4 linked regions of the Homo sapiens genome follow. The protein of the gene in region 4 interacts with the protein of the main gene of each other region in a pairwise test. Each region holds a gene or a part of one and is shown on either strand. Other genes may lie near its edges.

Region 1 (5,616 bases), on a different chromosome or scaffold from region 4:
TCTTACAGCAAGAAAGACTGTTTAAAAAAAATAAAAAGACTCATGTTACCTTGAGAAGAATTCTGGATGCCCAGGCTGGTGAAGAAGGGATTGACAATGGACCATCTTCCTAGGAACTCCCAAGTAAACTATTTCAGGACATGTATCTGCTGAAATGTATTTTATTTTCAAGGTGGAGGGGAAAATCGTCTGTTTCCTAAATCCTGTTTAGGATCTGATAGTCTATGCCTTTGTCTCCGAGTACTGCAGAACTGACATTTTGACGGTCTACCAGCGTGGCGGCTGGTGTTGGTCAGATGCACCTGTGTGCACTGGGGGAGGGATGGTTTGGGCAGGTGCAGATCCAAGGGCTGTGGTAAACGGGAGAGCTTGTGTTTTTGAAGTGGAAAAAAACCCAAGAGTTTGTACAGACATCCTGTCTTCCCAGAGAAGGTGGACACTCTTGGGCTCATTGTAAAGTGCCTGCTGCATCAATAAAGCTCTTGGCTTATTAGTCTATACATTGCGGTGTGTTTCGTGTATGTAAAAAAAAATGGTAATGAATGGGATGGTAATGAATGAGAGTTCAGTTGTTGTTCCGGAAACCCGATGTGGAAGGAGTAGACCTGTGTCCCTGTTGAGCCACCCCTGGGAGCGAGCATGGCAATCCACAGGCCCTCTGCCACAGGACGCCAGCCTCGGCCTCAGAGCTGCCGGCTGCTGCAGAGAGGTGTTTGCTGAATAAACTATTTATTGTTTCTTATTCCTTTGATTTGTATGTAATTAATTTTGGAGCTTATTTAATTAATTTAATAAAGTGCCAAACATTTAATAATTGATCTAGGCTTTAAAAGTCTTCAGTTTGTGGGATTGCACTTGGAATCTTTTGAGGGTGGGGCCTCAGATGTGCCTGGTCACGTCTCCTGATGCTGGGTTGGCTGTGCTGCAGAATCACTGCTGCATGGACAAGCTTTCTTTAAAGAACTAAACGTCAGAAATGGGGAGCAATCAATCAGCAAATAGATGGTATAATTTGGTTCCCCATAACCAATAACAGAGCTTCTCTGAAGGGCAAAAATGCTTTTCTTTCCTTTTCAGCACATGTGACTGCAGCTTGCATTCTGTTAAAGGTTAGGGCCCCATTCACACTCCAGAAGCTCCTCTGGGTCATACAGCCTTTGGATACAGACTTTGACCAAAGTGACACAGTCCTCCCCTCCACAGCTCTCCCCTCCTCAGTCCCTCTTCAGAACCACTGCAATTCTTGGGGGGGGTAGAATGGGGCTGTTGGCTTCATTAAATTACGTATATTTATTCACCCAAATCCAGTCTGGGAAGGTTCTTTCTGAAAGAAAGACAAACATTCTCTAGCCCTTGAGGTTGGCCTTGGAGTGTTAAATATGAGACACAAAATACCAGATTTAATGAGTCAAAGAAATACTGACACACCAAACTAGTAAAATCCATTGTAGTTGCATCTGGATTGAAGAGCTTTAATCAAAAAGTGTATTGCACCACAGATGAATTTGCTACAGCAGTTTTCAAGAATACAATCCCTATTTACAACATGGAAGGAGAGCTCAAGATCCATCGCTCGTATAAAGGGCTATAGATACCGTCGCTAACACAGAAAGTTTTATACAAGTCAAAGTGCATTAAATCACTTAGAATATTTATTCCACTCTTCCTCTTAAAGCTGAAGGAAATTCAACATGCAGGAGGAAAGCCTAGTCAGTGAAGCCTCCCTAAAGTGAGTACAGACCTAGGAACGGGCCCCACAGCTACACCTGAAACTGCCGAGGAGTGGGGCCTGGGGTGCGTGTGGGACCAGTTCAATGGCTGGAGAAGCCACGGAGGCAGCGGATGGGCTTCTGTGGAAATGTAGCTGCCTTTGGCTGGCTGTGAGCTACCCAGTCTTAGAGATTCTTTCCTGGAACAGTTGAAAAAGGAAATCCTACTTTGAAAAAAGGCTACCTCTTACCCATCAAACTTGCAGAACAGAAGAGACTCCTGTTTCGTGTTCCCACCAGGTAAATGGAAATTCGTGTTCTAAACAAGGGATAACTGTCTGCAAGGAGGAGCCAGAGGAGGAGGTTAGTCACTGGAGAAGCGGCCTCTGGAAGGCAGAGAGCCTGAGCTGGGACTAAGGAGATGCTGCCCTGACTTGGTTCTTCATGGAAATTTCGTTAGGTTAACGTTGCAAATGCGTGTTTTTCTGTGACACATTTTATATACCTATTTTGGCCCTAAGCATGATTGAGAAATACAACTTTCCATCACTGGATAATGGATAATAAATTTAGAGGCTCCAGTTATTAATTTAGTTTTTTATTTAACCAGTGAAACTTTCATCAAACAATAAACGGTTTCCTTTTAGATTCAATATTGTGGCTTTTCCAGAACCAGCATGTTCCCTTTCCTCAGTAAACGAGGAATCCATAAAACAAGTTTTTGTTGGTTACTACCAGAGTCATGTGCATGCTACAAGTGCTGCAGCCAGCTGGGCGCCGTCTGGGTGTAGTGTCATTTTAAGTATTTGGGGTGGGATGAGGGAGAGAGAGCAGCTCCACAGACAAGGCAGACTGCCCCAGTGTCTCCATCGAGGCTGGGGGACAGCTGCTGCCCCCACTGGAGACAGCGGACTGTCCTTCAGTAGAAGACAGGTGGTCTGCATCGCCCAGCGGCAGCGCAGCACAGAATCAAGACAAAGCACACGAGATCCCACTGCACTTCAGAGGGAGCAGTGCCAGAGTGCGAGTGAGAAGACAAAGGAACAGGAATCCTAGTTTTAGGAAGAATTTCCTCTGGACGCTCTGATTTTAAGAACACCAGTTAAATGGATTTTATAGTACAGAAGACATGTTTATAGTAGTGAAGAACTTCAGCTATAAAAAATAGTTTAAAATGGTTTACCAGCAACCTATCCAAGACAAGTACATTCATTAAAAAGGCAATTGAGTGTATTTGGTACTAAGGGTCTTTTCATATATTTGCTAGTTTTCTTAAGTAAAGTGGAGATACTGTCAGAAAGGTGCATTTTCTCATTCATCCACACCGACCCTTAAAGATGGATCCTCTAAAGTTCTAGGTGGTTTGAGAGACAGGGTGAAAGAATATTTTCTTGAGAGGAAGGGATAAAAAGCTTCTAACTCATCTGAATTTTTAAAAGCCACTCCCATAGAGTTCCCATGGAGTTGGCTGTTCCTGGCAGAGGCAGGTGGGTTTGGCCTGCTGGGCACCATCTCAAAGGGCCGTCTCTACCTCCAGTAGCAGCGCTACATGGTGACTCAGGTGTGCCTGCCAGATGCTGATGGCTTCAGCTGTAAGTGCTACCGTGAAGTTAGAGGATTCAGGTGCAGATGGGGTGCTGGCTGGAGCTGGGATATTAGCAGCACTGTGGAAATCTGGGTAGTGCCAGGACCCTCCTGTTTGGTGACCAGAATGACAGGATCAGCTACCCCCTGAGGTTCAGGTCAGCCTGCAGGGAAGTGGGCCTTAGTCTTGTAAACAATGTTTAGACACTTGTACAAAATACTGCAGTTACAGTGATTAAAAACCCACCCAGACTGGTGTGTCAGTGTTCTTTTCACAGAAAAAGTGTCAACCCACGGAGCTCCATCCTTGGGTAGTCCCCTCTAGGACCATGGTATCCGAGGGTTTGAGATAGACGGCCGGATGCTGCCCTTGGGAGCTGGTTTGGACCCAAACCATGACATCTGCATTTGAAACAGAAAAGGCTTCTGAGATGCAAATCAGGACTTGGTGCCAGGGAAACTGAACCGCCCCTCCCCTCCCGTGAGCCTGTCACTCCTGCCCCCCACACATCCTGCCTCTGGCTCTGAGCAGAGCAAGAAGATGGTGCCAGTAACCAGTCTGCAGGCCCGTGCTCAGTACAGGAGGGAAATGAGAGAAAAACACTGAGTTGACAGGAACAAGGTAGTGGAACTGCAGGTATTTTTTCCTATTAGAGCATTTATGCAGACGCTTTTGGAATTTGAGTGCCGAGCCAGACCTGGGGCTCTCGATAAAGCGCTATCAATGAAAATGCTTTGAAAAATACGTGGCCTGTTGGTCAAGTACAGCACAGACATTTGGGCACAAAGGATGTCATCGCTAAAAAGTGCTTGGATCAAGTTCATCCAAAAGCAGCCAAGCTGATCATGCAGCTGTGCTGGTGCCTACACTCGGGTGTGGGTCTAAGGGGTCTTACACTGCTACTGCTGGGATAACTGACAACGTATCTTGGAAGCTGGAACAGTAGACCAGAGAACCCTACCTTATATTCCAGAGTTTCCTTGAGCATGTTCTCCTCCTCTTGGGAAAAGTTCAGCAACACTGACACAGCTTTTATAAGATGAAAAGCCTGAAACACAGTAAGTTTTGCTGCCATAGGCCTTGGTGAAGGTGAGGCGGGGTGGGGTCGGGGGAGCTACGTGGCATTTCCTGCTTGCTTTGGTTAGCAGGACCAGGTGGTGGGTGACGCTCTGGCACTCTGAAGTTTGGCAGCAATGATAGGTTCTTTCTTCCCCTGCATCCTCGGGGGCCTGGCAGGCTTAAGGGAACTGCCCCAGCAGCTACCCTACCCTTTGGCAGGACCCAGGAGCGATGGGTGGATTCCGTTCCCGGCTTCCGGCCTCTGGCCTCAGCACCCAGGCCAGGATTTAGAAGTGGAGCCTATGTCTCCCACCAGGAGCCAGTTCCTGCACGGCCTCTCCCGCCAGCCGCTCACTCCGCAGGCCAACGCCAGCAGGAGAAATGACTGGGTGACCACAAGGGCGTCAAACCAGGATGTACGAGGAAAAGAGAGAAAGGGGCTGGGCAGGGGTCCCTGCAGGACAGACTGTAGGGCGGGGCCTCAATACCCAAAAGACACCTCAAAAGCCCTTTACCTCGGATTCGCGACAAGACATGAATTTTAAAACCACATGTTTAAGGTACTCAAAGTTGATCTCGCGGGCATCTGTCAGGTCAGTGTTATTCGTGACGGAAGGCGCCATGTTTGCCATCTCAGGTCCAGGTTTCTCCCGGACTTCGAAGAGCTCATTATCGGGTCTGATTTTCTGAAAAACCAGTGGGAAAGATGCTACACCGAACCCTCTGAGACAGGTGGAAAAAATCACACGGGAGGTTCACCTGGTCCAAACTATGATCACTATCGTAGGGCAAAAAGGGCCCCACCTGGGAAGGAAGCACCTCCAGGTAGGCTTGAGGAGGGAGTGACATCGTTTGGGTAAATTCAGACATTCCGTTTTCCATGGCAAGAACACATGTCCCTGGGGCCTGAAGCTGCTCGCATCCCGCATCAGGCCAAGCACTCTGCCACACACACACACTGTTAGAGCATCACTGCGCTGGCGTGGCAGGCAACCCCACTTCCAGATGAGGATGCAGGCTCAGAGAAGGCAGGAACAGGGCTGTAGCCACGGAGCTGCTTCAGAGGTGCATGCAGGCTGGCAGGCTGTCCCACCAGCTAACGTTGGATTGCCCAGCGATCCCTTGCAATTAATTAGGGGGTGGAGGGAGCATAGTCAGGCGGCGAGGGACCTCAGGAGGACCGGGCACAGGCAGCAGGGGGAGTGCTGGGAAGTGGGGCCAGCTCCCATGCGAGTACTCACCAGCTCCTTCTGCAGAGTCTTC
Region 2 (8,307 bases), on a different chromosome or scaffold from region 4:
TAACACGGGGAAACCCCGTCTCTACTAAAAATACAAAAAATTAGCCGGGCATGGTGGCGGGCGCCTGTAGTCCCAGCTACTGGGGAGGCTGAGGCAGGAGAATGGCGTGAACCCTGGAGGTGGAGCTTGCAGTGAGCCGAGATCGTGCCACTGCACTCTAGCCTGGGCCACAGAGCGAGACTCCGTCTCAAAACAAAACAAAACAAAAAACTATCTAATTGTGAGACTTTTCTGCAATTCTGACAATGGGGATAGCAGAGGAGCATATTTGCCCCATCTTATCATTAAGTTGTCAAAATCTACCCAGGATGAGAAATAGAAAATAGAGGCCTCATTCATTCCTTCCAGCTGCTGTGGAGTATCCCAGCAGGTAACGACTCTACAGTATTTCTCTTTCCCCTGTGGATAAATACTCAAGTTGTTCCTAGGCGTTCACTACAACGAACAATATTGACAGGAGCATCCTGGATGTGTAGCTTTCGGCCCATGTACAGGTGGTTCTTGAGGAAAACACCAAAAGGCTGGATGGCTCCCCAGAGAGGGCACCTGTCACACTCCCCTTTGTGTGAGAGGAGTACTGTAGCCCAGAAGGGTCACCAGGGACTCTGGGGCAGAGAAGAGAGAAGAATGTTGCTCTGCTGATCTCCCAGCCGTCTCTGGATCAATGGCCTTTCTTTCAGGCCTCATGTTCTCTGCTGTAAGGCACTTCACTTGCCTTACTCACTATGCCTGGCACTTAATAAGTGTTCAAGAAAATGGAAGCATGAACCTTTTGAGGGAACAATAACCAATATTTTCATGTATCTTTATGTAGTCTTTTCTATGCACTTTTAAATTAACATAATTAGTATAATGCTACACATAGATTATTTTTATCCTATTTATTTGCTTAGTATTACATTGTAGCATTTTCCAGGTCATTAAAATGTTCTTAAATTTTTAGTGGCTGCATAATATTCCACTGTTTGCCTGTATTATAATTTGCTTAACCTTTCTAGCAGAGCAATCTTTTATATAGTTCAAAATTTTTAGAAATATTTTAATCGAGGTGAAATTCACATAACTTTATAAAATTAACTATATGATTTTTAAAGCGAACAATTCAGTGGTATTTGGTATATTCACAATGTTGTACAAACACTACCTGTCAGTAGCTCCTAAACATTTCCATCACCCCTGAAAAAGGAAACTTTGTACCCATTAAGCAATTACCCCCCATTCCCCCGGCCCCTGGCAACCACCAATCTGCTTTTTGCCTCTACGGACTAATTTATTCAGGATATTTAACATAAATAGAAGCATACTATGTGACTTTCTGTGTCTAGCTTCTTCCACTTAACATAATGTTTTCCAAGGTTCATCCACATGGTGGCAACTATTAGTACTTTATTCCCTTTGTGGCCAAATAATATTCCATTGTATGGATATTCCACAGTTTATTTACCCATTTATCCACAGATGGAAATTCAGGTTGTTTCCACATTTTGACCATTGAAAATAATACTGCTATGAGCATGCATGTGCATACATGTATTTGTTTGAGCACCTGTTTTCAATTCCTTTGGGTATATACCTGAAGTAGAGTTACTGGGTCATATAAAAGTTCTATCTCTGTGGCCGGGTGCGGTGGCTCACGCCTGTAATCCCAGCACTCTGGGAGGCTGAGGCGGGCGGATCACGAGGTCAGGAGATGGAGATCATCCCGGTTAACACGGTGAAACCTCGTCTCTACTAAAAAAATACAAAAAAATTAGCCGGGCATTGTGGTGGGCGCCTGTAGTCCCAGCTACTCGGGAGGCTGAGGCAGGAGAATGGCATGAACCCGGGAGGCGGAGCTTGCAGTGAGCCGAGATCGAGCCACTGCACTCTAGCCTGGGCGACAGAGCGAGACTCCTTCTCAGAAAAAAAAAAAACAGTAGTTCTATCTTTAACTTTTTGAGGAACTGCTATGCTGTTTTCCACCATTTTACATTCCCACCGTAATATACAAGGGTTTCAATTGGCTTCACATCCTTGCCAATGCCTACTATGTTTATATTTTATTAGTATTATTATTACCATTCTAATGGGTACAGAAAGCACGAATCTTAATCTCATTCAAACCAGGCTGCCCTCTGAGGGCTCTTACCTCAGAAAGTAAGGAGAAAGTTGTCTACATTCTAAGGACTAGCCAGGGCTTGGACTTTAAACTCTTCTAGAAAGTAAATTCTACAAGAGCACAAACATGTTTGTCCTATAAACCACTGTATCTTCTAACACCTGGCACCTGGCACATAGTAGGGCCTCAAAAAAACACTGATGGGACAAACGCAATGAATGTTGGACAACCTCCTCCCTCCCTTGCCTGAGATATTTCAGCTGCCCTCCCCGAACACCCCTCCACCCGCAGCGATTATTTTTAATTAGTTGCTAACATTTAAACTCAGGAGAGCTCACATAATCTGGATTTCTGTCTCCTAAAACATTAGAAGAGTTAGCAGCCCTGAGACTAGAACCCACGACTCCAGTGCTCTTCAGACAACCTCAGTGGAGCTGGGGGCTGCCCTGGGGGCTACACCTGGGCTGTCCAGCTTGCACAGCCCTTGCCAGGCCCACTTTCCTCATCCGCAGAACCCTCCACATCCCTATAGTCATTTGAGTTTTCAAACCCCACCCTTCGGGTCATGACAAGGCTTCCTTTTTTATAGAAAAGGAACATGAAGGGCTGGGTGCGGTGGCTCACCCTGTAATCCCAGCACTTTGGGAGGCCGAGACAGGCAGATCATCTGAGCTCAGGAGTTCGAGACCAGCCTGGGTAACATGGCAAAACCCTGTCTCTACAAAAAGTACAAAAATTAGCTGGGTGTGGTGGCACATGGCTGTAGTACCAGCTACTCAGGAGGCTGAGGTGGGAGGATCGTCTGAGCACAGAAGGTGAAGGTTGCAGTGATCTGAGACTGCACCACTGTACTCCAGCCTGGGTGACAGAGCAAGACCCTGTCTCATAAAAAGAAAAGAAAAGGAATGTGAAGCCTAGAGAGGGTAATTGACTTTCCCAAAGTCACACAGCAAGTTAGTAGCACAATCTCTCTCAGCCTCTTTCTTTCTTACATCTTTTTGTTGTTGTTTATTTTTCTTTTTTTATACCACAAGTCATCAAGCAATCACTTCTGCCTTTCTAAACAAACCCCACCACATGCACCAACCACATGTTGGTCCCCACCCCATTTCTCCAGTTTCCTCCCCCACAGGACTGGGAGTTTGAAGGTACTTTCAGAGGCGTGGGTAATGATGCAGAAGCAGCCTGTGCTTAAGTGTAAATGTGCCCTGGTCTTGGCCCCGGCTGTGGTCCCACATGCTGCATCCTCTGGATGGCACTGCGCTAGGACGTGCGCTCCTGACTCTCCCTTCGAGTCACCTCCCTGAGTTCCAGGCATCACCCTGAAATCCTTTGGCCCAGGAGATGTAAGTGCAGCCAAGAGAACAGGAATCCCAGCCTCATCTCTACCATAGAAATGAAGAACAGTGGGTACAGTACAGTAGACGACCCCGAGTCTGAGTGCCAGCTCTGCCAAAGACAGGTTGTGATGCACTAGGCAAATCTCTTCCCTTTCTGAGCCTCAGTTCCCAAATCCAAAAAAAAAATGGAACTGAGGCTGGGCACGGTGGCTCACACCTGTAATCCCAGCACTTTGGGAGGACAAAGCAGGTGGATCACCTGAGGTCAGGAGTTCAAGACCAGCCTGGCCAACATGGTGAAACCCCGTCTCTACTAAAAATGCAAAAATTAGCCGGGCGTGGTGGCGGGCGCCTGTAATTTCAGCTACTTGGGAAGCCGAGGCAGGAGAATTGCTGGAACCCGGGAGGCACGGTTGCAGTGAGCCAAGGTCTTGCCACTGCACTCCAGCCTGGGCTGACAACAGCAAGACTCTGTCAAAAAAAAAAAAAAGGGGGAGAACTGAGGAGGATACTACTCATGATTCCTGCAGCACAATTCCTTTTATGTCAAAACACACACACACACACACACACACACACACACACATACACACACTAGTCCATCATGGCGTATATGTCTTAGTTTGAGTTTCTCCAGAAGCAGACCCTAGGCAAGGTTTCAAATGCAAATAGTTTGAGAGCTGATTCCAGAGACCCTCCTAGGGGAGTAAGGAAGTGAGGCAGGGAACAGGAGGTAGTCATTAAAGGTGTCTTCTAAGCCCAGTTACCACTGCGGGCACCTGGAGCTCAATCCCACTGAGGAGCTCTGGGAGCCAGGGTAGAACAGGCTTGAGAGGTGAGGGAACCGGGGTATTTGTCCACCCTGTTCTCGCTCCTGTCTTTTGTTGAAAACTACTCCTGGGGATGTGATAATTCTCTAGCACTTTCGGCTTGCCAAGCCCATGGGCAGAGCAGGCACCAATAGCCACAGAGAAATCTCTCAGACAAAGAGATGAAGGTGCCGGCAGCTGGAAGTCCAGCCAGAATGTGCAGAAATGGTAAAGGGCAGAGTGATAGAGGCAGGGCACTGACAGCCTCTGCTTCAACATACATGTGTGTAAATGCAGAGGCAGAGGCTGAGGCCAAATGCTGGCAGAGGATATCTGGGTGGGGAAAGAGGTGGCCATGGAGGGCTTATAGAATGAGTAATCCAAGAGTGTCTTAAATGTATCTGTAATGTTTTAATCTTCCTTCCTTCCTTCCCTCCCTCCCTCCTTTCTTTTCTTTTCTTTCTTCTTTCCCTTCTTTCCTTCCCCCCTTCTCCTCCTCCTCTTCCTCCTCCTCCACTTTCTTCTTCTCTTCCTTCCTTTCTTCTTTCTCTCTCTCTCTTTCTTTCTTTTTTCTTTCTTTCTTTCTTTCTTCTTTCCCTTCCTCCTCCTCCTCCTTCTTCTTCTTTCTTGCTTCTCTCTCTCTCTCTCTTTTTTTTTTCTTTTTCTTTTTGAGACAGGGTCTCGCTCTGTCTCCCAGGCTGGAGTGCAGTGATGCTATCATGGCTCATGCAGCCCCAACCTCCTGCGCTCAAGCGATCCTCCCACCTCAGCCTCCTGAGTAGCTGGGATCACAGGCACATGCCACCACACCCAGCTAATAAAAAAAAATTCTGGTAGAAATGGGGTCTTGCCATGTTGCCCAGGCTGGTCTTAAATTCCTCGGCTCAAACGATCCTCCTGTCTTGACCTCTCAAAGTGCTGGTATTACAGATGTGAGCCACCATACCTGGCCTCTAATGGTTTAATTTTTAACAAGAAGGATGCACTAATGTTTTACTAGGTGGTAAAAGGTCATTTTAAAAATAAAATACATACCCTTCAAAAAATAAAAGAAACTGAGACCTGGAGCTTTGTCAATTATAAAAAAAATGTAAAAGGATCAGCGCCTGTGTTACTGAGGCTTTGAGGATTCCATTTGTGGAGGACAGGTTTGGGGGCAGCTGATCTCTCAGTACCACGGCAGGTTAAAGTGAAAAGTGGCCCTGGTGGTGAACTGGCCACCATGTCCTGTCTGGAGGGGGAAACTTCCACTCAGCGGCAGCCAAGGAAAGACTGCTCCTCTCCCAGCAGAAGCGAGCAAATGTGCATCACCCTTCTCAGTTTAAACATATATTTATAGCTATTGGTTTTCTTTTTGTTTGTTTGTTTTTGTTTTGAGACAGGATCTCACTCTGTTGCCCAGGCTGGAGTGCAGTGGGGCAATCTTGGCTCACTGCAACCTCTGCCTCTTGAGTTCAAGCAATTCTCCTGCCTTAGCCTCCCAAGTAGCTGGGATTACAGGCACCCACTACCACGCCCAGCTAATTTTTGTATTTTTGGTTGAGACAGGGTTTCACCATGTTGGCCAGGCTTGTCTCAAACTCCTGACATCAGGTGATCCGCCTGCTGACCTCAGGTGATCCGCCTGCCTCAGCTTCCCAAAGTGCTGGGATTGCAGGCATGAGCCATTGCACCTGGCCTATTTATAGCTATTGTTTAGACGGGAAATCTGGGGGCATCCAGCAGACTAAATGGGGACCTTACTGTCATATCTCATATCCTATTGGTCAGATGGATAATAAACAAATCAACAGGTAATACATTAGGTGCATTAGTCCAGGTCCTTTTTTATTTTTTCTTTTCTTTTTCATACTTAACTTCAGCATACCCTGAGATAGTTCAAGTCCTTTGAGAAGCAGACTCCCATAGCATTAAATGTGCAAGAAATTTATTGGAGGAAATGGCTATGAGAGAAAATGGGAAGAAACCAGGAGAGGACAGGAGAGCCATCAGATAGTGGGGTACCTCTGTCCACTAATGAAAAAGAAAAGGAAGGAAGAAAGGAAGGAAGAAGAAAGGAATAAAAGGAGGACGTGTCTTGGACTGCCATGCCGTATTTTTTTTTTGTAGTTGTTGTTCTGTTTTATTTTGTTTTTTTTGAGACAGAGTCTTGCTCTGTTGCCCAGGCTGGAGTGCAGTGGCGCAGTCTTGGCTCACTGCAACCTCCGCCTCCCGGGTTCAAGCAATTCTCCTTCCTCAGCCTCCTGAGTAGCTAGGATTACAAGCATGCGCCACCACGCCCAGCTAATTTTTGTATTTTTAGTAGAGACGGGGTTTCACCATGTTGGCCAGGCTGGTCTTGAACTCCTGACCTTGTGATTCGCCCGCCTTGGCCTCCCAAAGTGCTGGGATTACAGGCGTGAGCCACTGCGCCCAGCTGCCGTGCCATTCTAAGGAAAGTTTGTCAAGGCTGTTAAGGAGCCCTTGGCCAAAGTCTCTTGACAGAGGTCCCCCAGACATGGGTGGGCTTCGGTCTCCCTGCCACACTCAGTCATTGGCTGGGAGCAGCCCATGAGAGCAGTGATGGACTTCAGAGCACAGCAGCTGAGCCGCTGATCAATTTCTCCAGTCGTACTCCTGCAGTTGGAGATCTGAGAGGTGCATCCTCATGGCCACCACGTTTAAGAGGTGGTTAGGGGCATGAAGACTAGCTGGGAACAGGCTAGACAGTGATGGGAGTTGGGGGGCAGAGGATCCTGTCTTTGCCAGGGTGATGAGGGAAGGTTGCTCTGAGAAGGTACAATCATTAGAGAGACTGAAGGAAGTGATGGAGCCTTTCTGGGTGAAGAATATTCCAGAAACAGAACATGCAATGCCCCAGAGGTATAAGCACAGTTGGTGAGTTGAAGAAGAGCAAGGAGGGCTCCAGTGGAATGATCAAGGGAGAGTTAGAAGGAGACAGATCTGAGAGGCTGAGGAGGGGATCAGATTGTGGAGGTCTTACCCACCTTGGAGAGGACTTGGGCTTTTACTCCAAGTGAGACGGAAACCCTGGGTGGGGGTTGAGCAGAGAAGGAATGCGATCTGACTTACCTTTTTTTTTTTTTTTTTTTTTGAGACGGACTCTCACTCTGTTGCCCAGGCTGGACTGCAGTGGTGCGACCTCGGCTCCCTGCAACCTCTGACTCTGGGGTTCAAGCGATTCTCCTGCCTCAGCCTCCTAAGTAGCTGGGATTACAGGCATGCGCCACCATGCCCGCCTAATTTTTGTATTTTTAGTAGAGATGGGGTTTCACCATGTTGGTCAGGCTGGTCTCCAACTCCTGACCTCAGGTGATCTGCCCGCTTCAGCCTCCCAAAGTGCTGGGATTACAGGTGTGAGCCACCATGCCCAGGATGACTTACATTTTTAAAGGCTCACTTATTTGTAAGAGGCAGAATGCAGATTCAAACCCAGCTCTATCTGACTTCAAATCTCATGCTCTATTTTCAAACTGCCCTGCCTCCTGCCTGCCTTAGAGATAAAATCATTCCAAGAAGGTTCACAGTTGCTCTGGAATTCTGAAATTGACCAAGTGTCCCAAGAGTAACATTGAACATGCTATGAGTTTTATATGTGGTTGAATAAGTGTTTGGAACACAGGCATCTCAGAGCCAGCCCTATGGCTCAGCCAGGCAAATGATCAAAGCCCTGAGTTCTCCTTTAGTGTGTTGCTCTGTCGCTCGCCATCGTGTGAGCCAGGGCCCACGCAGCCTCTTGGGGTTGTTACTCCACCTGTCCAATGAAGATTTTGATCTCCCAAGTTTCCTCCTGTTTGCAAAATCAAAGTTTTGAGCTCTATGAGAAAGAAGCTGAGGCTCAGTAAAGGGAAGACGTGAGAAGTCAGGAGTGACCCCTAACTGTCTATTAGGGACAGTAGTCACTCGGGGATAAAGACAGTTCATTCAGAAGACAGTCAGGGAACCCGAGGAGAGGGAGCTGCTGGGCTCTGCACCCCCAAGGCACTGCTCAGGGAATTGGCTCCTGTTGAGGAAATACTTTTTCCCCACCCCCATTGCTGAGCTGTTCTGAGAAGGGAAA
Region 3 (8,307 bases), on a different chromosome or scaffold from region 4:
TTTAAATTCTGTTTAACATTAGTTATTTTTCTAAGTATAATACCAGTTTTCCTAGATGGCTATTGGGGGATTGTTTCAAGTTTCTCTATTCCTTTAAGAACAATTCTTGTTGTAAAGCAATATTTTTTTTTTGTTAAGTGGAGAACATTTGCAGGAAAAATATATTTTAAAGTCAATGAAAATAATCATGTGCAGAGTTCTTATGTATGCAAGCAATTATAACAGAATAATTTTGCCTGATAACATTCATGGCAACTACCAATAATTTTTACAAAACAAGGAAAAGAACTTCAGAAAAAATAAAACATTATTAAACGTTCATTAATCAGTGATTGAAGTATTTCTCCCCTCCCCCATAAATTCTATCATCACATCATCCAGCCTTAACAAATTTTGGCTTTGCACATTGGCATGATTATTGTATTTCTGTTTTTCACCAAGAGACAAGTTTTTAATATAATAGAATCCCTAAATATCAGGTTTCATTTTACAATCAATGCTTTTAACCAGGTTGCAGTTGTAATGCAGTTTAAATTGCCCGTGCAATGTGTATTGTATCATAGCTTCATATTTGCCTTTCTTTAATTGAGTTATATGCAATGTTGGTGCTACATTTGTTACTAAAGAATGTTTTCTAACAGCTTACTGTACTTGATGTTATAAGAAAAATAATTTTGTATACAGAAAGCCAAGGAAAAAAACAGGGTATAATTTTAATATTAATGAAATAAATATTTTTAACTGTCTTGTTTTCAACCCCGTGCTTTTTTTTTTTTTTTTTTTTTTTTTTAGTACAGACAGGGTTTCACCATGTTGGCCAGGATGGTCTTGATCTCTTGACCTCGTGATCCGCCCACCTCGGCCTCCCAAAGTGCTGGGATTACAGGCGTGAGCCACAGCGCCCAGCCCCCATGCTTTTTTCTTAAGTAAAAACCCAATGCTTTATAAAATCTAGAGAGGGAATATACCTATGTGTGGATGACACTGAATCATTGAGAAAAATGCAAAAGGACTGTCTGTCAAATGCCAAACAAGGCAACTGAACACAAAATAAATTGCAATGAGAGGCTGGTGTGACTTACTAATGGATCACACAGGCTGAAATAAGTGAATGTGGTTTATTTGTTTTAAATCAGCATCAGGTGTTTTGTTTTTCATTTCTTAGTGGTGTATTAAATAATAATATGTTTTAAAATTAGTATTTTCTTGCATTTGATGAAATACAGGCTATATGCTATTGTAAAGAAATGAGAGGAAGACAATTAAAAGGTAACAATGAACTTATTATAATGTGCACAGTCGACTGATTAATCACTAGATTTTCCATCCTTTCATCCTCATTAGGAATTCTATGGATAGGTAATAAGCTAGCTGCATGACAACTAAATTGCGCAGAATCTGACATAATTACATGAGTTTCAGGAGGCTTAATTCTGATTTTGAGAAAGATGTGGCTAGACACATGCATTAAAATTACCTTCAGGGATCTCAAATTCTTCAGAGGTAATAAACATTGGTTAACATCATAATATGGAAATTATTTTCCTCTGGGCCAAGGCAACCAAATCCATATATATATATATGTGTGTATATATGTATATGTATATGTGTATATATACATATATGTACACACATATATATACATATATATACACATATATATACACATATATATACACACATATATACATATATACACATATATACACATATATATACATATATACATATACACACATATATACATATATATACACACATATATACATATATATACATATATATATACCCAAATCAGATCTATCTATATCTATCTATCTTAGATTCCCATCCTTCCGATCCAAATGCATATGCCAAAATGTATTTTAATATTTTGTGTTAAGAGGATGTTTCCTATGTACTTCTAAACATATTCCAAAACATGTAGCATAAAATAAACCTAGAATTTTAGAATTGGAAAGCAACTGAATGATTGTTAGAGTTTCTTCAAGATCTAAATTCTATTGTCTTACATTTTATTCATTTCATTCAGTGAGTGGACTTAGAAACTGAAGCCCAGAATAATTAATTTATTCATTCCATGTTACACAGTTCAATGGTAGCACAACTAGAGTCTTTTGGCTTCAGGTTCAGTGTTCTTTCTATTAGCTCAAATTGTCCTATAATATACTAAAGACACAATAGGGTAATTAGTGTAGTGTATGGTATGATATGCCTCCTACTTTTCCCTTTCTCTGCCTCAAACAAATACACTTTCAAGACTGAAGTCTTAATTTTTCCTGTTGCTGAGAGTGTTGGCAACTGATAGCTCTCAAGTAAATTTCTCTCCAATAATTTCTCTGCTTAAAAAAAAAAAGCAAAACCAAAAAAACCTACTCATCCAATACTATAGCCCTTCCCAGGGCCTGCCAATGTCCAATAACTGGATGATGGGATATAAGACTCCCACCGACTTGCCTGAATTGGAGACCACTATTAAGAACCATCCCAAATTCAGACCTCCCTATGTGATCAGTCGAGATAGTGTAATTGCACAGAATTTAATTTCTCACTCTGCCTGACTCTGCTTTCTTCATTCTCTATAGTTGTTGGCCTAAGAACACTCCCCAATACATTTCACAAACATCTGTCTCACAGTCTGTGTTCTGTGGAACCAAACTACAACAATAAATATAAAATTACTTGAATTTTCTAGAGAAAGTGACTTTCTTTTTAAAATAGAGATAAAAGTGTTCCAAGTGATTAGGTTCTAAAAGATGAAATAAATACCTCTCAAAGTAGTTTCAAGGTCTGTTAGTTACATTATATTGTTACTGTGATGATGATGATTATTGTTGTGATTAAGGTAACTACATTCCAGGTAATTAGGCATTTTATAATCAAGGAGGTCATTAAATATTTGTAATAATCCTTTATGAAGATATGGATATAAATATAAAACTTCATTTCTCAGATGAGGAAATTGGCAGCTTAGGAAGCTTAGGTAACTTGCCATGTTCACTAAACTAGAAAGTGTCTGACTTGAAGCTGACTTAAGGTAGCATTTGGGTCTTATATGAACAGCCCTATTTCACATGATGTATGCAGCACCTTGTCCTCAGTGTGGCCAATAAATATTTATCACAAGAATAAATGAATTCATATATATCTGACCCTACCCATATGATTAACCCCTGCACAATGCAATCTCCTATGTCCACTATGAGCTTTGGAGATAATAGTAAATATCACAGAGAACTTAAAAAAAAAAAAAAAAAAAAAAAACCAAGGGCAAAAAAACTAACATGTCAAAAACAAACTATGCTAAATAAACATAAATGGTTGATTTAAATGTGTATTTTCCTTTAAAAATTGAGAGTAAGAAGCCCCATCTTGCTTCTTTTGATAGTAGATCCACATGTGCCTTCTAAGTACCAGATACTGTACCAGAGAAGGGGTGCTGAGGCTGCCTGTGTGACTGAATTATTTGATCCTTTTCAATATGTCTTTTTAAAACTGTATATTCAATTTAATATAATATGCCAGGAGAATTAAAATGATCACATAAAGAAAACAATGAATATTCCCTCAAAGGTAATATTAAAATAGTGGAAATGAAGTCTACTCCTACCATTTCTACTTTCCTAGGCAGCATCTGTTGAAATAGAAATGAAAAAGAAATGTAACCACTGGTGTTATCATTATGGACTTATTAATGTTGCATTCATCCCCAATTTTTTCCACAATATTTCATAAGCAGCACCCATGATATGTCTAACATTTGGCCACAGATATTGAGCACAAGGTTGATTTGGGGGTTGGTTGGTAACAATTAAATAAACATATAAGTTTACAGGGATGGAGGAAAAAGAAAAGATCACATTTCTAATAGGTCCATAGCCTAGAGTATTGGGAAAGAGCCAAGAAGAAGAAAGTGAGCTAGACAAGTTCCCAAATGACGAAAATGGAATCAAAATAGTTTATTCCTTTTACTCCTAAAAAGTCTGAGGCATCTCTTGTGAGTCTTACAATGTTTCCTTTCTACACCAAATTACCAACCTACCTATGTCTACTCCAAATCTAAGGAAAAGTTAAAACAGCATATTAGAATTCACAGAGGGGGGTCTGCTGTAAGTAGCTTATCACAAAAATATAAATAAGTAAAGATGACATCACAAACATCAAGACAATAAAAAGGAAAGATGACATCACAGACATCAAGACAATAAAAAGGAAAGGCCTGAGTAGCAAAATCCTTCCCTCTGAAATCACTGAGTTTAAGGACGCCTAGTGGGTCTTTGTTTTGTAGAAAAGAAAAGGAGGGAGACTTATTTCAATAATAATCATTTTGAGGCATCAGCTCATATTACAATGTTTTTCTGCACGTAATTAATTTTAGAAAAATGTGATGAAGTTTTGAAAAATTCCTATGGAAATACTCGAGGAAGAAGGAACTGGTAGATAATCAAGCAGACGGCCTGTCCTACACTAGCTTAGGATAAAATCAAACTCTGTGCTACAATTTTCCAGTCTGTATAACGGGAATAAAAGAAACTACCTCAAAAGACTCTTGTGAAGAGTGAATATATGAGAGCAATAGCAGAGTGTTGGAAATACACACCCAATAAATATTATGTATTATCTCAAACTTTATTCAGCAAATATTTATTAAATGGTTAATATGTGCCAGGCAATTGTGTCAGGAAGAAAGAGTAGAAATGAAGAGAAATGGATGACTTGAGATTATATTTTGTAAATAGCAAGGACCTGATTTTAAGGTGTATGAAGAAAAGAGAAAAGAATAATTTTCAGGTGTTGGCCTGAATGTGGTGCCATTTACTGAGAAGGGAAATTCTTGGGGAAGAATGAGTTTCACAGTTGAGAATCAAGTTTTATTTTGTTTGGTTTGATATTATGCCAAATTAGTAATATTAATATAAGTAATATTAATCAAACAAAAAGTGATGATGGCTAAATAAGCAAATGAGCCTGCAGCTATCTATAGTGCTCTTCTCTCTTCTCCCTTGTCTGTTTCTCTTCATTTTTATCCTCTTTCTTTGTAGCAACAATAAATCCTTCATTTTTTGCATGCAGAACAATTAAGCCAGCCAGTCTCAGTTTTTACCTCAATGTGTTTTTCTACACAAACATAGTGCTCTCTTCAGGAGGAATATGGGTGCTAGCTTGTAATCTTTGCTTCTTCACAGCATGATTCAATGAGCTATGCCTTGTTATTACTAGAGTATACAATTCTTATGAGCAAGAAGATGGTATGTACTTGTGGACCTGATTTTGATTAATAAATTGCATCCAAAAGTCTAAATGAAACATGTATTGAAATTTCTAATAAGTGGTCTATTGGTCTTCTTAGATTCTTGTAGTTACTTGTGTGTTTTTAGTTCCTTTAATTTCTTGCTTACCACTTTGGTGATACAAATCATGATACTGATAATTCTATAAACTCTCTGGACATATATTTAAGTAACTATAGCATATTAAGCCAACAAAAGCTAATGGCCTCATATGTCTATATTCATCACTTATTAAAATAATCTGTATTTTCATACTCTGGTATCGCTTCAAATCATATAAATCACCTTTTACTTAATAAAATAATCTGTATTTTCTGTGAAGCTATATAATTCAAATTTAGTAAATTAGATGAACAAATATAAAAATGCCTTTTAGAGTAAATTAACCATTTAATCACTATCTGTAATAGTATTGCACCGGAAAATTTAATCCCATGGTTAATTGTATTGATAATTTTATAAACCTCATTGAAAATTTACGGGTTCAGACACAAATGTATAAATATCACTCTGTATTGTATGTATGCTATGAAAGTGTTTTTTTAAGACATCTTTTTCTTTCTGTGTCTTACCATAGGCTACATATCGAAATCGAATTGTGAGCCAAAATCTCAGCACAAGGGACAGAAAAGCAATACATACTCCCACCGAGGACCGTTTTAGGTATTCGGCAGCGGACCAGACAAGCCCCTACAAAAACAAGACCTGTCAACTCCCAAGTCTCTGTTTAAGTAATTTCCTGAAGGACAAGGAACTAGCAGAAGTTATCAAACATTCAAGAGGAACTTATGAAACCCTCACTTCAGACGTTACACAGAACTTACGGGCCACCGTTGGGCAGAGCTCTCTGAAGCCAACAGCTAAGACAGAAGGGCTCTCCACGTTCTTAGAGAAACCAAAGGACCAAGTTGCTACGGCCCGACAGCATTCGACCTTTACAGGCAGGTTTGGACAGCCACCCAGAGGGCCAATCTCTTTACACATGTACAGCAGGAAGAATGTGTTTCTCCACCACAATTTACACAGCACTGAGCTGCAAACTCTAGGCCAGCAGGATGGGTAATTAAATCACCGTATTCCTGTCTTTGGGTAGGATAAAGATGGTTAGTGTTTCTCGTGCATAGTTCATATTAAAATTGTCATGTACTTTTTCTTACATTTTAGTTATAAACAGAGTTGTGTTGTTGGGTTTTTTTTCTTAGTCATAAACAAAGACTTGTGGGTTTTTTTTTTCCAAGAGTGAAAGTTTGAGCATGTTAATTGAACTAGGTTGCATTGCCTTGAAGACTTTACTATATAGGTGTATAATAAATGGGACCATCATGATCGTTTATATAGTCCATAATTTATTTATTTTTTATCTCTATCACTTACTGATATGCATTAAGGTTTCAGAAGATAATATCAAATAGCAATCTGTTCACTGTTAATGGTGTTACTATAAAAGTAGACCTGATGAAAAATAGATAAAGGAATTATAAAGAATTTTAAATTATATAATTAATAGAAGGAGGAAAAAAGAGAAATGTTAACGTCTTATATTTGGTGGTATATTTATTTGAAGAATGTGGCTTGCTTGCATGTAACCTAGAGATGTGTTTGTCTCTATTACATACATTCAAGCTCATCTTGTGATACTAGTAAGGGGGAAATGGCTGTATTTTTTTTCCTTTAAACGTTTAGTTCATACTAGTTCACAAAGGATTTCAGACAGAGTAATTGCTAGCCAAATAGAGAATGACAGCTCTGATCTTTGAAAAATTTTGCTTTTAGTTTTTGTTATTGATGTTGAAGTACCGTGACATAACACAAGGTGATAAAGTTGGTTGAATTTTGTCAGATGATGCATAAATACTGACATGCTATATTCTTTGAGCCACTGTCATGGCAATATAAACATTTTTTCAAAATTTCAAGGATGAAACATCCTAAGAAAATTATTCTTTTTCTTTACTTTCCTTATTTTTTAAAATGTTCTTTTTTATGTAAATCCAATTTTGGTTTATATACATCAACCCATATCTATAATTTTATGAACTGAAGAACAGAAAGTCAGTATTTTAGTAGCCAGCATACAATATTCTGACTATGCAGAAATCTAGATTTGGAACAAAAGTAAAGTAAATGTGAACATTGGCAATTTAATCTTAGAAATAAGCTTCTAACAGGAATATTTAAAACCCATTTGATGGCAAATATTTCTCTTTGACAAATAAGGCCCAAATATGTTATAATATGTTATATACTTATGTGCACTTTAGATCAATATATGAATTGATCTATGGATAATTCCATCATGTTCAATTAGTAGCAGAGCAGAATCAAAGAGTACAATTGAATACATAAATAAATAATTTTTAAAAGACTAATAGGAATCAAGGCTGCAGTTTTCTTATACACATCAGAGCTGTTAAGTACATCCACATTAGCCATAGTCCATGCAAATTGAAACTGTCATACCTACTGCATGATCTGTTTCCCTTGCATTTTCTAACAGAATCTGTCAGCGTGCACAAGCAAGATGAACAAAGGGAAATTGAGATAGCAGTTTTAGCATGGCATCTGACAACTTGCTTAAATTAAAGCTGTGTGCAAAATGCATCTCCTATTATAAAAATGTATTTGTGCCCTGTGCTTTGGGGAAAAGCCATTAGACACTCCACCCCTGAGCTTTAACTACTGAACTTTGATACATTTGCAAACTTAGATTGGAACTGATAAAGTAAGGAGTCGAGTGGATATGTTGTACTTGTAATTTTGGTTTTCCAAAGGAACACACATGTGCATCAAGGCAGACATTTGCCAAATGTTTTCTTTCTTTGCGTGTTTGTAATTCTGCCAAAAGAGAACAATATACACTGCAAATTGCTTGACTTAATGAGATTGCCATCTAAAGTTCCCACCATACTTTGGAAGCTATAATGATCATGCAGATATACACTTTGGGCTGGGCAATATTTAAGAAATGATAGGAAAATAGAAAAATCATGATTATTAATTGTGGAATTCAGCTTGA
Region 4 (8,307 bases):
GCTCCGGAACTCAGAGGCCGACTTGGAGAAGACTTCAGGTTCCAGAACCACAGACTGGACAAGCCTCAGTACATGAAGGCACACCTCTGCATCTGGATCTAGGGAAAAGAGGTAATGCTTCTGGTTAGAATAAAATTTTCTTTTTTCTTTTTGTTTTATTTTTTTGAGACAGAGTCTCGCTCTGTCACCCAGGCTGGAGTGCGGTGGCATGATCTCTGCTCACTGCAACCTCCGCCTCCCAGGCTCAAGAGACTCTCCTGCCTCAGCTTTCCTCTGTAACTGAGGCAGGAGTTTCCCAAGTAACTGAGATAACAGGTGTGTGCCACCATGCCTCGCTAATTTTTTGTATTTTTAGTAGAGATGGAGTTTCATCATATTGGTCAGGTTGGTCTCGAACTCCTAACCTCAAGTGATCCACCCACCTTGGCCTCCCAAAGTGCTGGGATTACAGGCGTGAGCCACCGCGCCTGGCCTAGAATAAAATGTTCTACTGCAATCTACCCCTCAAGGGGTTCCTGGCCTTTCTGAATAACACGTTTGACAGTTTAGAAAACTACAGGATAACCCAGAAACACAGTCACTGCTTGATATAAAAGCTTAGCTCATAAAAGCAGCATCAAAAAACTCAATAGTCTAATAACCATCATCTTCAAATATTACAGTCATACAATTTTAAAGTGTTAAACTAGAAAGATGAGGGCTTTCTCTGTTTGCTAGTGAGGACTAAACTCTGATTTTTTTTATCTTGCCCAAATTCCTATCTAAGGGGTCTGGGGAGTCATGTCCTACAAATCACAAATTCTCATCAGATGGGTTTTATTTAACCCTATATATCATGACTTTCCAACCTGACTCTGGCATAACATTATGAGACAAGAAAGAAAATAAAAATACTTTACCCCAAAATATGTTTCTTTGCCATATTTTGAAATGGCCCTGCAAAGCTGTTCTTTGTGGGGGAAAATCTGCATTTGTAAAGAATCTCTACTAACATAGCTAGATCTTTTTCTTCGAGACCCTCCTAATCCTAAAGAGATTAACTAAGATCTGAATAGGAAACATCTGTCATCTATTGTCTCTAAGGCAGCCACCATAAGACTTCAAAAGAACTTGGATGTCCACAATCTTTACCTTAACCTGAACATTCCCTTTCTATCAATCCCAGGTCTTTATCAATCAGAAAATGTTTAAATTCACCTATAGCCTGGAAGCCCCACGCCCCCCAGCTTTGTCCCACTTTTCTGGACCAAACCAATGTATTTCTTAAATGTTTTTGATTGATGTCTCACACCTCTCTAAAATGTATAAAGCCAAGCCGCACCCAACTACCTTGGGCACATGTTCTCAGGACCTCACTCATATTTGGCTCAGAACAAATCTCTTCAAATATTTTGCAGAGTTTGACTCTTTGTCGACAGTAGCATTCTGTCCACTTATAAGATTGTTTTAAAAAGTATTACTTCTTTTTCACTCCAATTGCAGCAAATCCCTCAGGGACCACATACAGATACAGCACTTATCAGGGCCACTGAGTTTACACAATGTCACTGGGTATATAAAATTCACGTTGTTTATTTTCCATGGGAATGGCCCCAGGACTTATAGAATCTGGTAGCCTTGCATACATTGTAGCAACCACTAAAAAATAGCTAGACAAACCCACTGGAAGCTTCAATCCATCACCAGAGTGGAGCCAACTTTCCTTACCATTCCTCTCTACTGGCAGCCTTTACGATGCCGTAAATTCACTCCTTGACTGGGTACTGCAACTGGAACCAGGCTCAAAATCAGCACCTCTTTCTTAGCACATTTACTTAACAAATAAAAAAATTAAAAAAAAACCTTTTAAGATGTAGACTGAAAGAGCAGACTGAACAGTCTCTCAGTGGGAGCTGCCACAGCACTAAGCCCTAACAAGAAGCTTCTCACCTACAGAATCAGAAGACTGCTGTGGCCAGGGAAGATAAAAGGCAATCTGCTCTAGCCCTCAGGGAGGGTCCAGGAGCCATCTTAAGCCAGCCTGTTAGAGTCCTCCTACTTTGGGGGAAGGGAGGGGAACTTTCTCTAGTAGAGACCTGCCAAAGATAAGGGGCAGCTAAGGCAGACACAGAGGCAAGGCCAAAAGCCATGGGTGAAGACGCTTTGGCAACTCAGCCCTCATCCTAAGCTCAAGGAAAGGTTAGAGGAATTTGAAGCCAGTGGGATGGAAGGTACATACACAACAACAAAACCCAGACCCACCTTAACTCCCCAACAATGAAAACCCAGCGGAAAAAGAGGAGTGGCCATTCCTGAATATAACACTATCTACCCACCTCATTCCCCTCTACAGAGAGGGTACGCATGGCCCAGAGGCCAAAGGTAGCCCATGACCCGTTTCTGTACAGCCTGCAAGCTAAGAATGGTTTTACTTTTTTTTTCTTCTTCTTCTTCTTCTTTCCTCCTCCTCCTCCTCCTCCTCCCCCCCCCTCCTCTCCTCCTCCACCACCTCCTCCTCCCCCCCCCCTCCTCCTCCTCCTTTTGGAGACAGGGTCTTGCTCTGTCTCCCAGGCTGGAGTACTCTGGTACAATCATGGCTCACTGCAGTCTCAATCTCCTGGGCTCAAGCCATCCTCCCACCTCGGCCTCCCAAGAAAGAGGGACCACAGAACATGTGGCCACGCCCAGTTAATTTTTCACATTTTTTTGTAGAGACGGTGTCTCACCACACTGCCCAGGCTGGTATCAAACCCCTGGGCTCAAGCAATCCTTCCACCTCAGTCTCCCAAAGGGCCAGAATTAGAGGCATGAACCATTGCAGCCTGCCAGGTTTTACATTTTTTAAGGGTAATTTTTTAAAAGTAAAAACCAGAAGAATAACATGCAACAGGGACTACACGTGGCTCTCAAAACTCAAAATATTTATTTGGCCCATTACAGAAAAAGTTTTTTGACCTTGCCTACTGCCCTCCACACAATGTCCAACACTGAAATCAAAAATTACAATGAAGAGGCAATGGAGGCCAGGCGCAGTGGCTCACACCTGTAATCCCAGCACTTTGGGAGGCCAAGGCGGGCGGATCACGAGGTCAGGAGTTTGAGAACAGCCTGGCCAACATAGTGAAACCCCATCTCTACTAAAAATATAACAATTAGCTGGGTGTGGTGGCGCACGCCTGTAATCCCAGGTACTCAGGAGGCTGAGGCAGGAGAATCCCTTGAACCCAGGAAGCAGAGGTTGCAGTGAGCTGAGATTGCGCCACTGCACTCCAGCCTGGGCAACAAAGTGAGACTCTGTCTCAAAAACAAACAAACAAACAAACAAACAAACAAACAAAAGAAGGCAAAGGAAACAAAAGGCTCATTGTCAAGTGACAATCAACAGAAGCAGACACACAGATAACCTGGAATAATAATACAGGAATTTCAGAAAAAGAATCTGAAATAAATATGATCAATAGATGGGAAAACACTGTTTTAAGGTACTTACACTATACCTGAAGCAGCGGATTATTATTTAAAGGTAAACAGTCATGCAATGTATAACATTTCAGAGAGCTTCATTGTCAAATTCTATCAAAAAATTAGAACAGAAATAATAGAAATTTTAAACAAGTCTTCCAGAAAACAGAAAAGGAGGAAATAAGTCAACTTTTTTTTATGAGGCCAGAATTACACTGACACCAAAACTAGATAAAGATGTTAAAATAAAAGAACAGACCAATATCCCTCATAAACAAAGACACGAAAATCCTAAACAAAAAAATAGCAAATTGCATTCAGCAATATATAAAAAGGATAATACTTCACAGCCAATAGACACTTATTCTAGGAATGGAAGGCTGGCTCATTATTTGCAAATCAGTCAACATCACCTACCGTAACAACAGACTAAAGAAGAAAAAAAAAATTATCTCTTCAATAAATGCAGAAAAGCCTTTTGACAAAATTCAACATCTGTTCATAACAGTAATAATAATAATAAACCCTCAACAAAACAGGAATAAAAAGGAACATCCTGAACCAGATTAGGGGCATCTACAAAAAACACACAGCTAACATCATACTTAATGATAGAAGACTGAATGCTTCTTTCCTAAGATGACGTACAAGGCAAGAATATCCTATCACCCCTATTCAAAATCATACTAGAGATCCTAGCCTGTGCAGTAAGGCAAGAAAAAGAAATAAAAGGTTTATTGATTAGAAAGGCAGAAATGAAACTGTCTCTATTTGCAGATGATATGATTGTCTATACAGAAAATCCCAAAGAAACTAGAAAAAAAGTTATTAGAACTAATTGAGTTTAGCAAAGTCACAGAATACAAATTCAACATACAAAGGTCAATTGTATCCACATACTTATAACAAAAAATTAAAAATCTAATGTTTTTTAAAAATTACCATATATTATATAATAGCACCAAAACATGAAACACTTAAGTATAAATCTCATGAAACTATGTGCAAGATTTCTATGCTGAAAACAACAAAACACAGATATAAGGATCCACAGACATATAGATGGAGAGAATATGCCATATTTATGGACTAGAAGACTCAATATTGTTAAAATGTCAAATCTCCTCAAATTCATCTATATAATCAATGCAATGCCAACCAAAATCCAAGTTGAAATTTTAGCAGAAATCAACAAGTAATTCTCAAATTTATTTGGAAAAACAAAGGAACTAGACCAGACAAAACAATTTAGAGAAAGAGAAATGTTGGGGAATTGCAGTACTAGATTTCAACATTTATGGCCATAAAGAGTGTGGTACTGGTCAAGTGACAGAGCGACAGACAAAGAGATAAGTGAAATAAAATTAGAGGATCCAAAAACAGACCACAGCTTTGTGAACTCTCAACAAAGGTATACATTCAATTCAATCAAGAAAGAATAACCTTTACAACAAATGGTGCTGGAAAAATTGAACATCCATATGCAAAAACAAAGAACTTCAATCTATACCTTGCCTAACATACAAAAATTATACAAAAATTAATAACATACCTAAATGTAAAACCCCAAATTTTAAAACTTCTGGAAGAAAACAGGAGAAAAATCTTTGTGACCTTGAATTAGGTAACAATTTCCTAGACACAAAACCAAAAGCATAATCCATACAACTAAATAATTTATTAGCCACACCAAAATTTTAAAAATCTGCTCTTCAAAAGACAGTCACAATGAAAAGACAAGCCACTAGATGAGGACAAAACATTTGCAAAACACGTATCTGATAAAGGACCTAAATCCAGAATACACATACATCTCTGAAAACTCAGTAACACAACAGCCCAATAAAAATAGGGAAAGTGTTTGAAAAGACACTTCACCAAAGGAGATACACAAATGGCAAGCACACAAAAAGATGCTCAGCATCATGGCTATTAGAAAAATGGAAATTAAATCCATACCTATTAGAATGGCTAAAATTAAAAAATAAAAATCTGAAAATACCAAGTGTTGACAAGAATGAGGAACAACTGGAATGTTCATAGATTAGTGGTGAAAATTTAAAATGGTACTGCCAGGCCAGGCGCAGTGGCTTACGCCTGTAATCCCAACACTTTGGGAGGCTGAGGCAGGCAGATCACCTGAGGTCAGGAACTTGAGACCAGCCTGGCCTCCATGGTGAAACCCCATCTCTACTAAAAATACAAAAATTAGCTGGGTGTGGTGGTGCACGCCTGTAATCCTAGCTACTTGGGAGGCTGAGGCAGGAGAATCACTTGAACCCACGAGGTGGAGGTTGCAGTGAGCCGAGATCGTGCCACTGCACTCCAGCCTGGGCAATAGAGCGAGACTCTGTCTCAAAAATAAATAAAATAAATAAAATAAAATAAAATAAAATAAAATAATAAAATAAAATAAAATAAAATAAAATAAAATAAAATAAAATAAAATAATAAAATAAAATAAAATAAAATAAAATAAAATAAATAAAATGGTACAACCACCTGAGACAACAATTTGGCAATTTCCTATACATTTAAACACATACTTACCACATAACTCAGCATATGAGTTATATGCTGAGATAGTTTTATGTCACAACTCATACAATTGTCTACTAACAAGTGAATTTTGTTCTATGTAAATTATAACTCAACAAATCTGGCTTTATATTAAAAATAAGAAGAAGGCCAGGCTTGGTGGCTCACGCCTGTAATCCCAGCACTTTGTGAGGCCAAGGTAGGTGGATCACCTAAGGTCAGGAGTTCGAGACCAGCCTGAAAAACATGGTGAAACCCTGTCTCTACTAAAAATACAAAAATTAGCCAGGTGTCATGGCAGGCACCTGTAATCCCAGCTACCTGGGAGGCTGAGGCAGGAGAATCACTTGAACCCCAGAGGCAGAGGTTGCAGTGAGCTGAAATCACGCCATTGCACTCCAACCTGGGCGACAGAGTTAAGACTGCATCTCAAAACTAAAAAAAAATAAAAATAATAATAAGAAATTAGATCCCTGGACCCTCTCCCCTATTCCCTGCCTCTGGAAAAATGCCCTTCCCTAGTAGAGACTGGACATTTCTTTTCTTTTCTTTTTTTTTGTGAGACAGAGTCTCACTCTGTCACCCAGGCTGGAGTGTAGTGACGTAATCTCAGCTCACCGCAACCTCCGCCTCCCAGTTCAAGTGATTGTCCTGCCTCAGCATCCTGAGTAGCTGGGATCACAGGCACCTGCCACCACACCCAGCTAATTTTTATATTTTTAGTAGAGACGGGGTTTCATCATGTTGGCCAGTCTGGTTTCGAACTCCTGACCTCAGGTGATCCGCCCACCTCAGCCTCCCAAAGTGCTGGGATTAGAGGTGTGAACCACCCCACCTGGCCTGGACATTTATTTTCTAAAGAATCTCTGGAGGTGAAACATCAGGCACAATTGAGGATGGAGGTTCTGTCTGGAAAACATGTGGATTAGATAAACACATACCTACAAGCTCTAAGACATTCCCTCTATCTCTACTTTGTTTCCGGAGTTTATAGGCCTTCATCCCTCCAGAAATAAGGGTGGGTGAGTCTTCTCCAGACAATCTGAACAACCCAAGACAACACAGTCGAAGATACTGACCTATGGGTTCCCAATTAATTGATGCACCAGCTCACACTGCAGAAAAGTTCAGAAGCTCCACCCATATGCTCACAGCTTCCAATCGGCATTATAAATCCCACTGTTAAACATGACCAGACAACCACACATCACCAGACACCTGAGAAAAAGATAAATGGCTATCATTTTAAACAGGAACAAAAGGAGGACAAAGAAAAGAGATTGTGCAGTGAGAAGAAAAGTTTTAAAAAACTATTATTAATATCTTCCTCAAGGAGGTAAAAGAAGCTATATCATCTGTTAAACAAGAATGGGATGCTATTTTTTAAGACAATTAAAAATAAACAGCAGTCTTAGAAATTAAATGCCTGAGAGTAGAGATGAAAACTTCAATAGGAAGTATGAAAAAAGAAGTTGAGAGTACAGATGTCCCCTCTTATCTGTTGCTAAAACTTTCTGTGGTAGTGCCGGCATGTGTCAAATACAATCAAACTTGTTCCTGTCAGGTGCTTTCTGACAGTGGCAAAGCTCTCAGGGCACACACTGAGCATTCCCTCCTCCTATGGGCTTCCTGGCCACCTCCAAAGCACATATGGATTCTGGACCATGTCAGCCACATCTTAGGCAATGCCCCAGGCTCCTTGAGCACCTAGGAACATGGAGTCATCGAGCAGCAACATAAGCCCATTCTTACAAGCTTCAAAGAACAAGAAGGCAAAAAAAAAAAAAAAATCTTCCTTGACCCCAAACTGGCCTCCAGTTCTGCCCAGTTCTTGACTCCCTTCCCAGGAATATTACAAGAGTGGTCTGTTGTTGCTACCGCCCCACCTCACCTTCACCCTTCAGTCACGCTACCATCTGCTCACTGCTGAGACAGCTTCTCTCAAGGTCACCAATGTCCTCCATGTTGTCACTGCTCAGCTTTCGTCTCACTTGACTCCTCTGGCTTTTCTTGGCTTCCATAGCACTCCTTCACCAGTCCCTCCTTATACTTCTCCTTTAGATGCTAGCCCAGGGCTCTGTCCTAGGCTTCCTTCTCTTTCTACTCTCCTTAGGTGACTTCGTCTACTCCATGACTTCAAATCCCATGTATCTACCAGTGACTCTAAATCCATTTCTCCAACCCCAGCCTTTCCCTGGAATTCCAGACTTCATAGCCACAAAAACTTGCCTGGACAACTCCCCTTGGGAATTTACTGCCAACTCAGGTTTCACAAGGCCAACACCCAACTCCTGATTCTCTGTGCTCCTGCCTCATCTTCCCCATCTC

The links.
Region 1: the proteins of HSF2BP (region 4) and GOLGA1 interact in binary tests that used the Homo sapiens proteins (3 or more experiments, as listed by UniProt).
Region 2: the proteins of HSF2BP (region 4) and HCK interact in binary tests that used the Homo sapiens proteins (3 or more experiments, as listed by UniProt).
Region 3: the proteins of HSF2BP (region 4) and CCSER1 interact in binary tests that used the Homo sapiens proteins (3 or more experiments, as listed by UniProt).

Annotation. Positions count from the first base shown.
Region 1 is NC_000009.12:124,876,916-124,882,531, forward strand, and holds the end of GOLGA1 (golgin subfamily A member 1), read right to left. Parts: coding exon 5,595-5,616; intron 5,040-5,594; coding exon 4,869-5,039; intron 4,343-4,868; coding exon 4,256-4,342; intron 3,696-4,255; coding exon 3,615-3,695; 3' UTR 1,360-3,614; downstream 1-1,359. UniProt on the Homo sapiens protein: Involved in vesicular trafficking at the Golgi apparatus level. Involved in endosome-to-Golgi trafficking. Mechanistically, captures transport vesicles arriving from endosomes via the protein TBC1D23.
Region 2 is NC_000020.11:32,054,617-32,062,923, forward strand, and holds part of HCK (tyrosine-protein kinase HCK), read left to right. Parts: intron 1-8,307. UniProt on the Homo sapiens protein: Non-receptor tyrosine-protein kinase found in hematopoietic cells that transmits signals from cell surface receptors and plays an important role in the regulation of innate immune responses, including neutrophil, monocyte, macrophage and mast cell functions, phagocytosis, cell survival and proliferation, cell adhesion and migration.
Region 3 is NC_000004.12:91,592,704-91,601,010, forward strand, and holds part of CCSER1 (serine-rich coiled-coil domain-containing protein 1), read left to right. Parts: intron 1-5,868; coding exon 5,869-6,354; 3' UTR 6,355-8,307.
Region 4 is NC_000021.9:43,529,865-43,538,171, forward strand, and holds part of HSF2BP (heat shock factor 2-binding protein), read right to left. Parts: intron 99-8,307; coding exon 1-98. UniProt on the Homo sapiens protein: Meiotic recombination factor component of recombination bridges involved in meiotic double-strand break repair.